Regions from separate parts of the Homo sapiens genome. Here all the other regions are reported to be linked to region 1. Evidence: microRNA targets listed by miRTarBase, many of them from high-throughput screens and not tested one by one. Region 1 holds a microRNA gene; each other region holds the end of a gene's coding sequence.

Region 1 (3,111 bases):
TCTCAGCTCACCACAACCTTCACCTCCCAGGTTCAAGCGCTTCTCCTGCCTCGGCCTCCCGAGTAGCTGGGATTACAGGCATGCACCACCACGCCCGGCTAATTTTGTATTTTTAGTAGAGACGGGGTTTCTCTATGTTGGTCAGGCTGGTCTCGAACTCCCGACCTCAGGTGATCCACCCGCCTCGGCCTCCCAAAGTGCTGGGATTACAGGCATGAGCCACCACGCCCAGCCGGAAACATTCTAAACATACGTAAGTATAACAGGAGATTAGAAGTCATGTTGATTCTGCGTGGCTTGATTATGGATCATTGTCTTCCTCTCATCGCAGATCCTCATTTTTTCGGTTTTCTGTGATGCGCTTGTCCCCATATGGGGCTCTGGCGTCTTTCTGGGTCTGGAGGTCCCCAGCGCCCTCTGCCGAGGCATCTCTTGGTCCGGCGGTCCTCAGGCTGGAGGGTGGAGCGGAGAAGCCTGGTCGACGTGGATGGACTCGGTGGGCCGGCGCGGGGCCCGTTAGGCATCTTTAATAAGTTTCACCGGGAGCCGGGTGGCCGGGATGGAGACGGCTAAGCCGCGAGAAGTTTACCTTCTACCACAGCGTCCACAGTACCCGGCTTGGCCTCAGGCCTCGGGTCCCGACGTCCTCCCCAGAGCACAAACCTACTACAGGTTAGGCCGGAGGCCGCCACAGCCCAGGGTCTCTGCCACCTGGCCCGCCCCCTCCGAGGCGCCGGAGAGCGATTCCCAAGGGGCCTGCCGGAGCGTGGCGTCACAGGAGCGTCGCGTCACGTGAGGCTGCCATCCAATCGCGGCGCGCGCTCTGCCCTGCGGGCAGCGGGTGCCAGGCACGGTGTCAGCAGGCAACATGGCCGAGAGGCCGGGGCCTCCGGGCGGCGCCGTGTCCGCGACCGCGTACCCTGACACCCCCGCGGAATTCCCTCCGCACCTCCAGGCGGGTGCGATGCGGCGCCGCTTTTGGGGCGTATTCAACTGTCTGTGCGCCGGCGCGTTCGGGGCCCTGGCCGCCGCCTCCGCCAAGCTGGCCTTCGGCAGCGAGGTCGAGCCCGGGGCGCTGTTGGTGCTGCTGCTGCGGGCGGGCGGGCGGGGCGCCGCTGGGCGGAGGAGGGGCGCTGCGGGGCCCGCGGGGCTCTTGGGGTGGGGCGGGGGTGGGCGCAGGGCGCCGCCGCACCCTCGCCGGTCTGTCCCGCCGGGGCCCCGGGCCGCGGGCGGCGCTGCGGTCAGCTGGGGTGGCAGAGAGTGTTTCGCCTCTAATCACGCCAAACCCTCGTCCAGTGTAGGTGGTAAGAGACGTCGGGGACTGAGGCCTCTTCCCTTACCAGGGACCTAAAACCTTTTCTCCGGTTGGGCTAGTTCGCTCTCGGGGAAGAACTACACCTCCTACATCCACCCTCTACCTCTCATTTTAAGTCCCTTGTGCCTGAGCATTTCTCTCCACGTGACTCTTAAGGTGAGAAGCCTCTTGCCCATCCCTTTACTCCGTAATTAACGGGTGTTGTGACCAGATGACCAGTCTGCCCCACTACCAGGAAAATTGGGAGTTTGGGATACTGTAGGCATAAGAGGATACTGACAGAGACGTTCTGGATGTTTTCCTGACGCTGAGAACTCCTAAACTTGCATCCTGGCGTCTGCTAAGGTGTATCTCTGCCTCTCCCTCCCACGTCGTAGACCAGCCTCTGCTTGCTATAGGGGTTTCATTGCGTCTGCAGCCCAAGGTTAGCCTCTGACCTGGACAGTGGTCACTGATTATTTAGGGTTAAGCCTATTTAGGGCTAATCCAGTAGTAGCTGCCATGCTTCAGGTTAGTATCCCATTGGGTGTAGTTCATGGGGTAAGTGGTCGAAAGTAAAATGAATAACTTTGTATGGGCCGTGAAGTTTGTTGTCAGGAACTAGACCTTCATAACCCTTTAAGCAGGTTGCCACTGGCCCATATGCTGCTTTGTGTAAGACAAGGTTGTCCAACTCGCGGCCCAACGCAAATTTGCAAATTTAAAACATGAATTTTTTTGCGATTTATTATTTTTTTTTTAGCTCATCATATATCATTAGTGTTAGTGTATTATATGTGTGACCCAAGACAGTTCTTCCAGTGTGGCCCAGGGAAGCCAAAAAATTGAACACCCTGGTGTAAGTTATAAGCAAGCACCTTTTTCTCAAGACACTATGTGTTCAGCTGCTGAGAAACCATTACAAGTAATAAGTATATTTAGATTCCGCACCCCCCCCCCCCGCCGCCTTGTCTCCAGGCAGGTTTCTAACTCACCACCAAGCAAGGGGGACTGCATATCCTTTGTGTAGGAGGCTTCTAAAGATCTTCTCTTCTCTTGAGACTTTCTCCTTTAAAAAAAAAGAAAGAAAATACCTGCAAGTTCTCCAAGGGATGTCTGGGATCACTAAATAGTCTGAGGTGGTGTTTCCCTCAGGCAAGGCTGTGCCCTAGTTAAGAGCATGGAGGTACACTGCCTGCTTGTGAAGCCTGGTGGCTCTCACCGCTGTAGCACTTTAGGAAGGTTACTTAATGCCCCTGGCTCTTTATCTGTAAAATGAAGTTAAGGAATAAATGAGAATGCTTAAACACAGCCCAGGACCTAACACAGAGTAAAAGCTCAAGAATACCCAGAGGGGGTCAGCCTTAGTGGGCTGTAACTTGTATAGGATTTGGGGGTGGGAATACAGAGCAGACATTGCTAATTCATGCTTTGCCTGATCTCAAGAAATAAGAACTCTACCCTAGGCTTACTACCTACGGAGTAAGAACTACTTGGCCCTCTGGGACTGATCTTCAAGCACTGGTCATTGTGGGACCAATAAGGGGCCGGTGTTCAGTAGAAAATACTGGCTTTGGATTAGCATTTTGCTTCTTCCCAAGATCATATGGCCAGCAAGGTGGCCAAATGAGTATCTTCTCTGAATTTGCTTTATTTGTAAGATGGGTCTGCTGCCCACTGAGGGTTAAGTGAAGCCCTGTGCAGGAAAGCTCTGAGGCCCTCTGAGCTGTAGTGGGAGCTCAGTAGGAGCCTGGGTGCCAGCAACCACAGTCCTGGGTGTGCTTTGAGGGGGTCTGCAGGTTGCTGCCCAGGGTGGA
Region 2 (3,111 bases), not on the chromosome of region 1:
TGGAATAATTGGTCTCACATCCAGATGCTGACTGGCCACCTGCCACGTGCCTGGCACACACCCTAGGCACGGGTAGATTCATGGGGAGAGAAGCACAAAAAAGTCCTGGAATGATAGGAAAGATTTGGCTAAAAGGAGTCTTGGGAACAAGAATGAGTTTCTTGGGAACAACAGGTGGACCAATGCTGGGAGGGCAAACTGCATGAAAACAGGAAAAAGCTAGCCAGGCAGGCTGTCTTTAAAGAAGTTGTAACAAATCACACCAGGTGCTGCAATAACTTTCTCCTCCCTAGATTTTCAGAGCATGGTCTTTCTTCATGAAACCAGAGTTGGCAACTGAGGAACCAGGGACCCAAGAGTACTCCTAAGCCCACCTGCAGAGATTTTTACTTCTGGTACTCAGTTATCTTTGCAGTAATTTAGTATACCAAGCTGGTGCCAAAATTTTATGACAAAAGGTTATTCCTGTTTTTGAATGAAATTTGCTCATGGGCACTGGGCCAAGGAAATTTGAGAAGAAAAAAATTCAAGAAAGTGAAAAGTAAATTTAAAACATCCTAATAAAAAAATTTCAACTGGCCTTTAACTGACATAAAAATCATTTTTGGCAATGTGATTGACTTTTCAATCAAGAAAAGTAACTAAAAATTATAACAACATGGAGTGATGGAAATAATTGTACTGTATCAGTGTTTCCAAACGTTTGCACTTTGTAACACAGCACAGGAAATGATGCTATTTCATGCTGTTGGTTCAGCACATTGGGTAACTAGATGAAGCTCCTCCAGGCTAGAGGCAGCCAGCTGGAACCTTGCCCCAGCGCTAGGCCCCAGCCAGTGGTCACTCTGAAAGCTCAGCAGAATCCATCTCTGCCCGTCTGCAACCAACCTGCAACCCACTTGTGGCACCCCAGTGTGTCCAAGCAGACTGGCTGGGAACTGATGTTGATACTTCATCTTTTTTTTTTTTTGAGACGGAGTCTAGCTGTGTCGCCCAGGCTGGAGTGCAGTGGTGCGATCTCAGCTCACTGCCAGCTCTGCCTCCTGGGTTCACGCCATTCTCCTGCCTCAGCCTCCCAAGTAGCTGGGATTACAGGCACCTGCCACCACGCCTGGCTAATTTTTTGTATTTTTAGTAGAGACAGGGTTTCACCGTGTTAGCCAGGATGGTCTTGATCTCCTGACCTCGTGATCCGCCCGCCTCGGCCTCCCAAAGTGCTGGGATTACAGGCGTGAGCCACAGCGCCTGGTGATAATTCATCATTTTTTAAAAGTACTTTTATAAAGATCACTGATTGCTGAGACCGGTAATATTCTTTGTTTATAGTAGTAATATCATTTGGAATAGCGTGTTTAAGAGTAATAAATACAGTCTCTTGGACACGGGACTCACTTATCAGTTCATACTACAATAAAATCATTTTGGAAAATATACTACTAATAATATATTTCACCAAAAAACAATATTACAATTTTCTTTAAAATTATACCAATTATGACTCATACAATAGCAACACCTAGAAAACATTTTGTCTGACGTCATAAAATGAGTGCAGATATAAAAGAATCAACAGCAGATAATGCACCTAATTCATGGATTAAAGACAAAGATTAAAAAGGAAAGAAGAGTTTGTCATTTTACATATCAGAGGAAATATAATAAGTTAAGTCTACAATAATCTGGGTTGAATGCATCACACTTACACATTGAAAATTTATCAGACTGACTTTCTGTGGCTATACACCATACACAGTATAGTAAAGTAACCCTCAGGAAGGACATTAGTCTTTAAAATCTTGGCTTTAAGGAATGACAAATGTCTTTGAAAATATTTTGTTCAGTCACTGTGATTATAAAAGTACTTCAATTAAGAAATCCATCTATAATCAATCTTAAATGGCAGTGCATTTGAAAAATGGCATTGGTTTGTAATGTTTGCATTTCCAAAGAAAAATATAGAAAGAACTTAAAAAAGCAAGGAAACTGGTTTTCAAAAAAAGTATCGATTCAAAAATCTACTGCACAAAAATATGTACTTCTTAAGTGTTTCTAATAAATTAATTCCATAACATTTTTATGTATATTTATATATTTATATATATAATCCCTGATAATCTATAAAAGAGGGTCTATAATAGTAAAATAAGTGAACCTCAAAAGTACCCCCTTCATAAAATGTATGTAACATTAGTTTTTCTCAAATTTAAAGAATGTAACAATATGTACAACTCTTATGTATTAGTATAATACCAAAATAGTACAAGTCATATTAACAGGCTGTCATAATTGAAAAATGTTTGAGTCAAGTTAAAATCTGAGGACAGCTTAGTTTCAAACAAATACAATTATTATGGGAGATTCACTTTCCAAGTGGAAATGACAATCGTCTTATCTACAGTAGACTTCACAAGAGGTAGTGTTCAAGTAGAAATAAAAAAAAGATACATGCTTAACTATCTTTAATTAACAAATTCACAGGAAAAAATGTGTTGGTTTCTCAGATGATCAGTTGGTGGCTTTTTTAATATGAATCTGAAATACAAAATCATAAAAGGTATGATAAAGCTGTTAATTCTCAATTCCAAAAAGGCCTTAAATACAAAATAAAAACATAATAAAAATGTAGTTTCTAAGTTGTTTCACTGATTTGATATATGCTTACCTCATTAAGAATGGCCCAAACAGCAGAATTCTGAATAACTGAAAGTCGAAAGGCTGAAATGGGATTGAGACTTGGATCCACCATTCCTTCTGCAACACCATTCTCAAATTTTCCTTCAAAATAAAAATCAATACTTGTTGGATACACCGAGATAAGCAAACATAAAATATCACTGAGTTAAGGCAGGAAAGGAATACACCAAAATATTTCTAGTAGATGTCTTTTGACAGGGCACAGGTAATTTCTTTCCCCCTTCTTTCTACTTTCATTCAGCTTTTATATTTTTCATGAAGAAGTGCATATTTAAAAACTTCACAATTTACTTAATTAGGCAGAGCTATAATTTTTCTCACTACAAATTAAAAAACAAAAATATATTTGTTCTTATATCAACCATGTTTTAAACTATAGGTTTTTTGTAAATTGTGATTTACCTAAATCTTACCAAA
Region 3 (3,111 bases), not on the chromosome of region 1:
GTGCTGGGATTATAGGCGTGAGCCACCCCACCTGGCCCTAAATTGCATTTTTTTTTTTGTTTTTTTTTTTCAGATGGGATCACTGTTGCCCAGACTGGAGTGCAGTGGCACGATCATGGCTCACCGCAGCCTTGACCTCCCGGGCTCAAGTGATCTTTCCACCTCAGCCTCTCAAGTAGCTGGGACTATAGGCATGTGCCACCAGCTAAATTTTTTGTATTTTTTGCAGAGACAAGATTTCGCCATGTTGCCCAGGCTGGTCTCGAACTCCTGGGCTATAGGGATCCACCCACCTTGGCTTCCCAAAGTGCTAGGATTACAGGCGTGAGCCACCGTGCCCAGCCCACATGTATTTTTAAGAGTAAAAATAGCCAGGCACAGTGGAGTATACCTGTAGTACCAGCTACTTGGGAGGGTAAGGTAGGAGGATCACTTGAACCTGGGAGCTCAAGGTTGCTTTGAGCTGTGATGGCACCACTGCACTCCAGCCTTGGGGACAGAGCAAGACCCCATCACCTGTGCCCGGCCAGCTCACACCTGTAATCCCAGCACTTTGGGAGGCGAGACGGGTCACCTGCGGTCAGGAATTCAAGACCAGCCTGGTCAACATGGTGAAACCCTGTCTCTACTAAAAATACAAAAATTAGCTGGGCATGGTGGCGGGCGCCTATAATCCCAGCTACTCGGGAGTCTGAGGCAGGAGAATCTCTTGAACTCAGGAGGTGGAGGTTGCAGTGAGCCAAGATTGCACCACTGCACTCCAGCCTGGGCGACAGAGTGAGACTCCATCTCAAAAATAAATAAATGAATAAGATAAAATAAAAATACAAAAATTAGCCGGGTGTAGTGGTGGGTGTCTGTAATCCCAGCTACTCAGAAGTTGAGGCAGAACTGCTTGAACCCGGGAGGCAGAGGTTGCAGTGAGCCAAGATCATGCCACTGCACTCCAGCCTGGGCGACAGAGCAAGACTGTCTCAAAAAATAAAATAAATAAAAATTTTAAAAATACATAAATATATATATAAATAGGTACATATATGGTATAGGACATAAGAAATAACAAAAGGAGAAGAATTTAGTTCTGTAGGTCAGATAATTTAATAAATATTTCAAATAAATATATAATAAAAACTGAAATAAAATGTCAAGAATGGGGAACTAATGGTATTAAGTTTTATATAGAAGGGCATGAGGGAAGTGTATTAAAATTTGTTCAAATTTATGACTGAGAGGGCTAAGAAGGTACTTAATTTCCTCAGATGATACTTTGCGAACATGTGGTCTATTTGGTTGACCTTTGCAAATAGTTGAACAACCACACCGTGTATTCCCATACCCCCTAGACTGCCTGTCCAGGCCAAGCCTTAGTACCACGAGTCCACAGTGAAGTCCACTCCAGGTTATCTGCATAGGTAGCCCAGGCACCTTTCCTCTTTTCCTTTAGGTGCCTCCCCTCTACCCACAACCTCTTATTTCATCTCAAACACAGCTATTACAACATGTTTTATTTCACTGGAAAATTCTGTAAAGAACTAAATCTGGTTCCCTTGAAGAAAACATTTAGCACAGCTTAAATAAAAGTTGAGAAGGAGGGTAAGAGTGCATTGCCCCATTCTAGCTCTGTTGCTACCTTACCTCTGACTCTAAGGCCCTGTGGGATGAAAAGCAGGTATCCAAAAGAACTCTGCTTGGCCCTCTGATACGGCCTTGAGGTCAGCCCTGGTGCCTGCTTTCTGGCCCACAGACCGCTGAAATCCTAGGAGCTGCCATGGGAGTTACCAAAAATATGTGAATAAACTGAATGCAGAGGCTGAGGCAGGTGGATCAACTGAGGTCAGGAGTCTAAGACCAGCCTGGCCAACATGGTAAAACCCCATCTCTACTAAAAATACAAAAATTAGCTGAGCGTGGTGGCGGGCACCTGTAATCCCAGCTACTCAGGAGACTGAGGCAGGAGAATCATTTGAACCCGGGAGGCAGATGTTGCCAGTGAGCTGAGATCACGCCATTGCACTCCAGCCTGGGCGACAAGAGCAAAACTCAAAAAAAAAAAAAAAAAAAAAAAAGGAAAAACAAAACCCAGAATGCAGAAACTGCATTGGTATTTTGAGCTAGTTACAGGCAGTAACACTTCTACTAGGAAGGAAAATATATAATTTATCCAAAAATAGTTCTAAGATTTAGAAAAACATCTCAATCCTCTAGGGCCAAGACCTGCCCCTTATTTACATTCACAAAGCCATTAAGTGAACCCAGAACTGACCAGCAGACAGTGAGGCAGGGCCTGCTCTGTGGCACATGCCAGTCACCTACTGCGTAAGTGGACAAAGAGAAAGCAGAAGGTAATGGAGAGAGTTTTCATTTGCTTATTTAGTGAAAAACAGAGGAAAATCACTCGAGGCAAAAGAAGCAGGACTGAGTCCTGGGTTAGTTCTGATTCCTCACAAGCCCTAAGACAAGATTTTGAAAGATTGGACTAATGTCATGTGTCCTTAAGAACCAGGGTCAGCAAGTGGCTGATCTGAATGGTTTGTGGCCATGGAACCAATGTGACTTATTCTTTTTCATTTTTTTCCCTAAAAATCCAGGTGGATAAAGGACTGTGTGGGGAAAGTACCAAATAAATGAGGTAAAAAGGAAGGGTCATACAAAGAGGGCACTACACCAGCTTCTTGGCCTCAAAGAAGCTCTTGAGGTGACGCATCTGCCAGATGCCAGTGAGGATGAGGATGACAGTCTGAGCAATGGACCACCATAGGACCCTCTGGTTGGTGCTCTCGCTCGTCAGTCGGAAGCGCTCTTCACGATACTGTGTGGGGCAACACAGGGTTAAGTGAGCAGGAGAAACAGTCTGGCTGTTGTGAGGTCCCTCCCTGCGTGTAATTACTCAACTCCAGGACCAAACTCCTTTTGGAATACTATCTGTGACTCCATTAGGAGTGCTATGGTCTCCCCACTGAGGCTGCCCCAAGAAAGGGACAGGCTGTCCCTCCACAAGCATCTCTGTTAGGACTGAAATCATGATCCTACCATTTCCAACAAGAGTCCAAGAAAAACAGGTAGGCAATGGCTATTACTAGATTGTGAACTGTCCTTTCTTCATTTTATTTT
Region 4 (3,111 bases), not on the chromosome of region 1:
CCTGTAGTCCCAACTACTCGGGAGGCTAAGGCAGGAGAATCGCTTGAACCTGGGAGGCAGAAGTTGGAGTGAGCCGAGATCGTGCCACTGCACTCCAGCCTGCCGACAGAGCGAGACTCCATCTCAAATAAATAAATTAATTAATTAAACAGATTAACTCATATTATTCATAAAACAATAATTAGCATTTGCATTTTAACTCCCAAGACTTCAGTACTGAAACAACATTTTATACAAGCCTTAAAGTATCAAATCTTTAACACCAAAACAAGATAAAATACTCTAACATAGTATTTAAAGATTTAAAGAACAAGAATCACCCATTAAAATAGGAGTAGAACAAAAAGTTGCAAGGGACAAAAGAGTTCTTTTTGCTGGAAGTGATGCTTTTGTCATGGTTATTTTGTTTGCCTCTGCAGGAGAGAAATATGAACTTCACGCGGGAACAGAGTCGACACCCAGCGTGGTGGTTCATGTCTGTGAAAGTGAAACTGAAGAGGAAGAAGAGACAAAAAACCCCAAACAGAAAATTGCCCAGACGAGGCGCCCCGACCCTCCGACCGCAGCGTTGAATGAGCCCCAGACCTTTGATTGCGCGCTGTGAGGCCCTTGGTTGTGGTGCGAGGCGGCTGCCCTGGTGGGCTCTGGCCATGGCGCTCTGTGCCTGCGGCCGATGCGTTGCTGCGAACAGCATAGGTGAGACTCTGCCGAGTGAGGTATAGGTCTTCTCACCACGCCTGTACTGCAGACACGGTCGTGTAGAGTAGCAGCTGATTTGACCTGTCCCAGATTTTAAGTGATATTCCAAAAGGGACTTTACATTAAAGGAGAAGCCCCCAAGATGTGGCCACCCTTAACCATTTTTAAATAGTAACAAATTAGGAAAACAGCTCCCCTCCCCTCCAGCCATGTAAGTCCTCCTGATTCTGTATCACATGAGACACCAAAAACTGGAAATGTAGTCACACCCAGTACAGTACCATTTTTATGAATTTAAAAATAGTCTTATAATTTTAATTGTTTGTGGGTATTTTTCTACTGGTATAAATAGCTTCTAATTAATAAATCGATCAAAGGTTGTTACTCAGTATACATGAAATTTTTTGCAGGAAAAGAAACCAGAAATACAGAATAATTCATAGAAATCATGGTTCTCAAGTATTTGTTCAATTAGCTTTGGGGAAGAAATGCCAAATCCACTTTGAGGATGAGTCTTACGACACAGATCCACCCACATGTTGCTCTTATCTGGAATTTGGGACAAAGCAATGCACAGGCCCTCATTCCTGATGTGGCGCCCTCCAGACATGGCTGCCCAGGAAGGACGGCCACTTTAGAAGTGGGACGTATCACCAGTAAGCTTGAATGATTAGGATCGCAGGTGGCTACTGCATTCTGCCGTTCGTGACCGTGTTCTAGCCTGTAGACCACCCAGCTACCTTCATTCACCAGTTTTTATCCTTCACCTTTTCCAGTATCTTGTTAACCACTAGTTCTTGAGTTTTTTGGCTATGATGTGTACGTTTATGTATGTCATTCATGGACTTTCAACTAGAAAAGGTAATGATAAGGTTTTCTGAAGACCATTTGTAAATTGTCCATTTAACCATTTTTCAGCTTGCTTTGAAACAAAAGTCACACCTACTATTTTTCTATGAATTAGGGAATGAGGGGGAGATCATTCAGTTTTACTTTTCTTTTTGTTGAAATTTTGTACCCGGATTGCAGTTGGCACTTTTCCTAAAACAGAATTGTTTCCCACTTAGGTGTCAGAATGTACCTTTGAACTTCCCTAAGAAGCAGCAGGATCTTTTTAACTCTCTCTGGTCTGTTTAGACTTTGAAGTCCCTTCTGTAGAAAAGTCTCATAACTGAGAAGGCTCTGTTTTGGGCCGGGTGGGTCTGCTGGCCTCCACTCACTGTGCTGTTTCCTTTGAGTGGCACACTTGGGAAGCTCCGGGGCATGTGAAGGAGCTGCAAACATGAGAACTAATGAACCAAGGCGGCTGCCACCAGGAAGGAACAGAACGCAGGCATTCAACCATGACGTCTGCACAGTGTTAGTAACATGTCATTGTGGTTTCGTTCTCACTGTGGTAAAATTTATTTCTGAGCACTTAAACTGTGTTGCATACCCCTAATTTTTTTTTTTTCTGTATCTTCCTTGCCCTCAAATACCCTGAGGTGATAAACTGTTCCAGTTGTAGCCAACTACCACTGCTAGGCCTCAATGTAAATTCAGTTGAAATTTGCAATTCTATCAGCAATTTAATGTATTGAATTCAGATCATCATTTGTCATTTTAACCGACAACCACCCAATAAATTTACTCTGCAGTTCTGAACTCAGCATTGTGCCCATTTTTTACTGCAAGATGGACCCTGTATGCCAGGAGACATGTATTATCAACAATTGGGAATTTTTTGAATTTCCTTTTAGGTAATATTGATTCACTGTAATTTTCTAAGTGATCAAAACCCATGAGATTTTGTTATTTGGCTTGGCTTTCATTCTCTGCCTGCCCATTAAAGAATATTCTATTCCTAACACATAAAACATTTTACAGTCAAGCAGTGCAAATTACAGTGCTTTTCTATTTTTTTTTTGAGAGCCTTGAATAAATTGAAGAAAACTTTAAACCAAAATTAGAGACGAGTCATTTAAGCTTTTCTGAATGGAAAGTATTAATATTTTCATTTTTCTAGTATAATATAATAAAATGAATTTTTTTAAAAAAGCTACTAAGTACCCATCAACTTTTTCATATTGTGAAATGAACCAGGATCTTAACAGATACTATCATCGCTGTCCTTTTTTGGCTGTTTAATATCTAGTTCATGTAACAAATTTACAAGAGATAAGTCTCATGGTTTTTTTTTTCTTTTAATAGGCTTTTCTGCAATTTTTTTGAAATTGAGTTATTACTTGGATTTAACCCTGATAGGACCAGGTGTGGTGGCTCACACCATAATCCCAGCACTTTGGGAGGCCAAGGTGGGTGGATCCACCTGAGGTCAGGAGTTCAAGACCAGCCTGACCAACATGGTGAAATCCTGTCTCTACTTAAAAAATACAAAATTAGCCTGGCATGGTGGCACATGCCTGTAATCCC

The links. The annotated mature microRNA hsa-miR-564 reads AGGCACGGUGUCAGCAGGC and lies in region 1 at 847-865, shown strand. An mRNA with a match to its seed (bases 2 to 7 or 8) in the 3' UTR can be bound and repressed. Matches are read on the target gene's strand: a 7mer-m8 pairs with bases 2 to 8, a 7mer-A1 pairs with bases 2 to 7 and ends in A, and an 8mer does both.
Region 2: the mRNA of MGAT4A is a reported target of hsa-miR-564. Seed matches in the 3' UTR shown: 7mer-m8 at 66-72.
Region 3: miRTarBase lists TMED4 as a target of hsa-miR-564. The part of its 3' UTR that is shown has no 7-base or 8-base seed match.
Region 4: miRTarBase lists RCAN3 as a target of hsa-miR-564. The part of its 3' UTR that is shown has no 7-base or 8-base seed match.

Annotation. Positions count from the first base shown.
Region 1 is chr3:44,861,057-44,864,167 of GRCh38, forward strand. MIR564 (microRNA 564) reads left to right here and starts at 832; the gene lies at 832-925. It overlaps TMEM42 (transmembrane protein 42), which reads left to right and starts at 856. Exons shown (of 3, transcript NM_144638.3): 1 at 856-1,060. The coding sequence starts at 869. It also overlaps a transcript of KIF15 not described here. RefSeq lists an enhancer at 316-905 and silencers at 936-985, 1,316-1,365.
Region 2 is chr2:98,623,061-98,626,171 of GRCh38, forward strand. It overlaps MGAT4A (alpha-1,3-mannosyl-glycoprotein 4-beta-N-acetylglucosaminyltransferase A), which reads right to left. Exons shown (of 16, transcript NM_012214.3): 15 at 2,663-2,775; 16 at 1-2,532. The coding sequence ends at 2,506. Among named protein-coding and RNA genes, the nearest start is that of UNC50, 16 kb to the left of the region's middle.
Region 3 is chr7:44,576,820-44,579,930 of GRCh38, forward strand. It overlaps TMED4 (transmembrane p24 trafficking protein 4), which reads right to left. Exons shown (of 5, transcript NM_182547.4): 5 at 1,075-2,809. The coding sequence ends at 2,660. Among named protein-coding and RNA genes, the nearest start is that of TMED4, 3.9 kb to the right of the region's middle.
Region 4 is chr1:24,534,674-24,537,784 of GRCh38, forward strand. RCAN3 (RCAN family member 3) reads left to right here. Exons shown (of 5, transcript NM_013441.4): 5 at 420-3,111. The coding sequence ends at 604. Among named protein-coding and RNA genes, the nearest start is that of NCMAP-DT, 20 kb to the right of the region's middle. RefSeq lists enhancers at 1-7, 624-683, 658-1,309, 1,310-1,959, 1,786-1,875.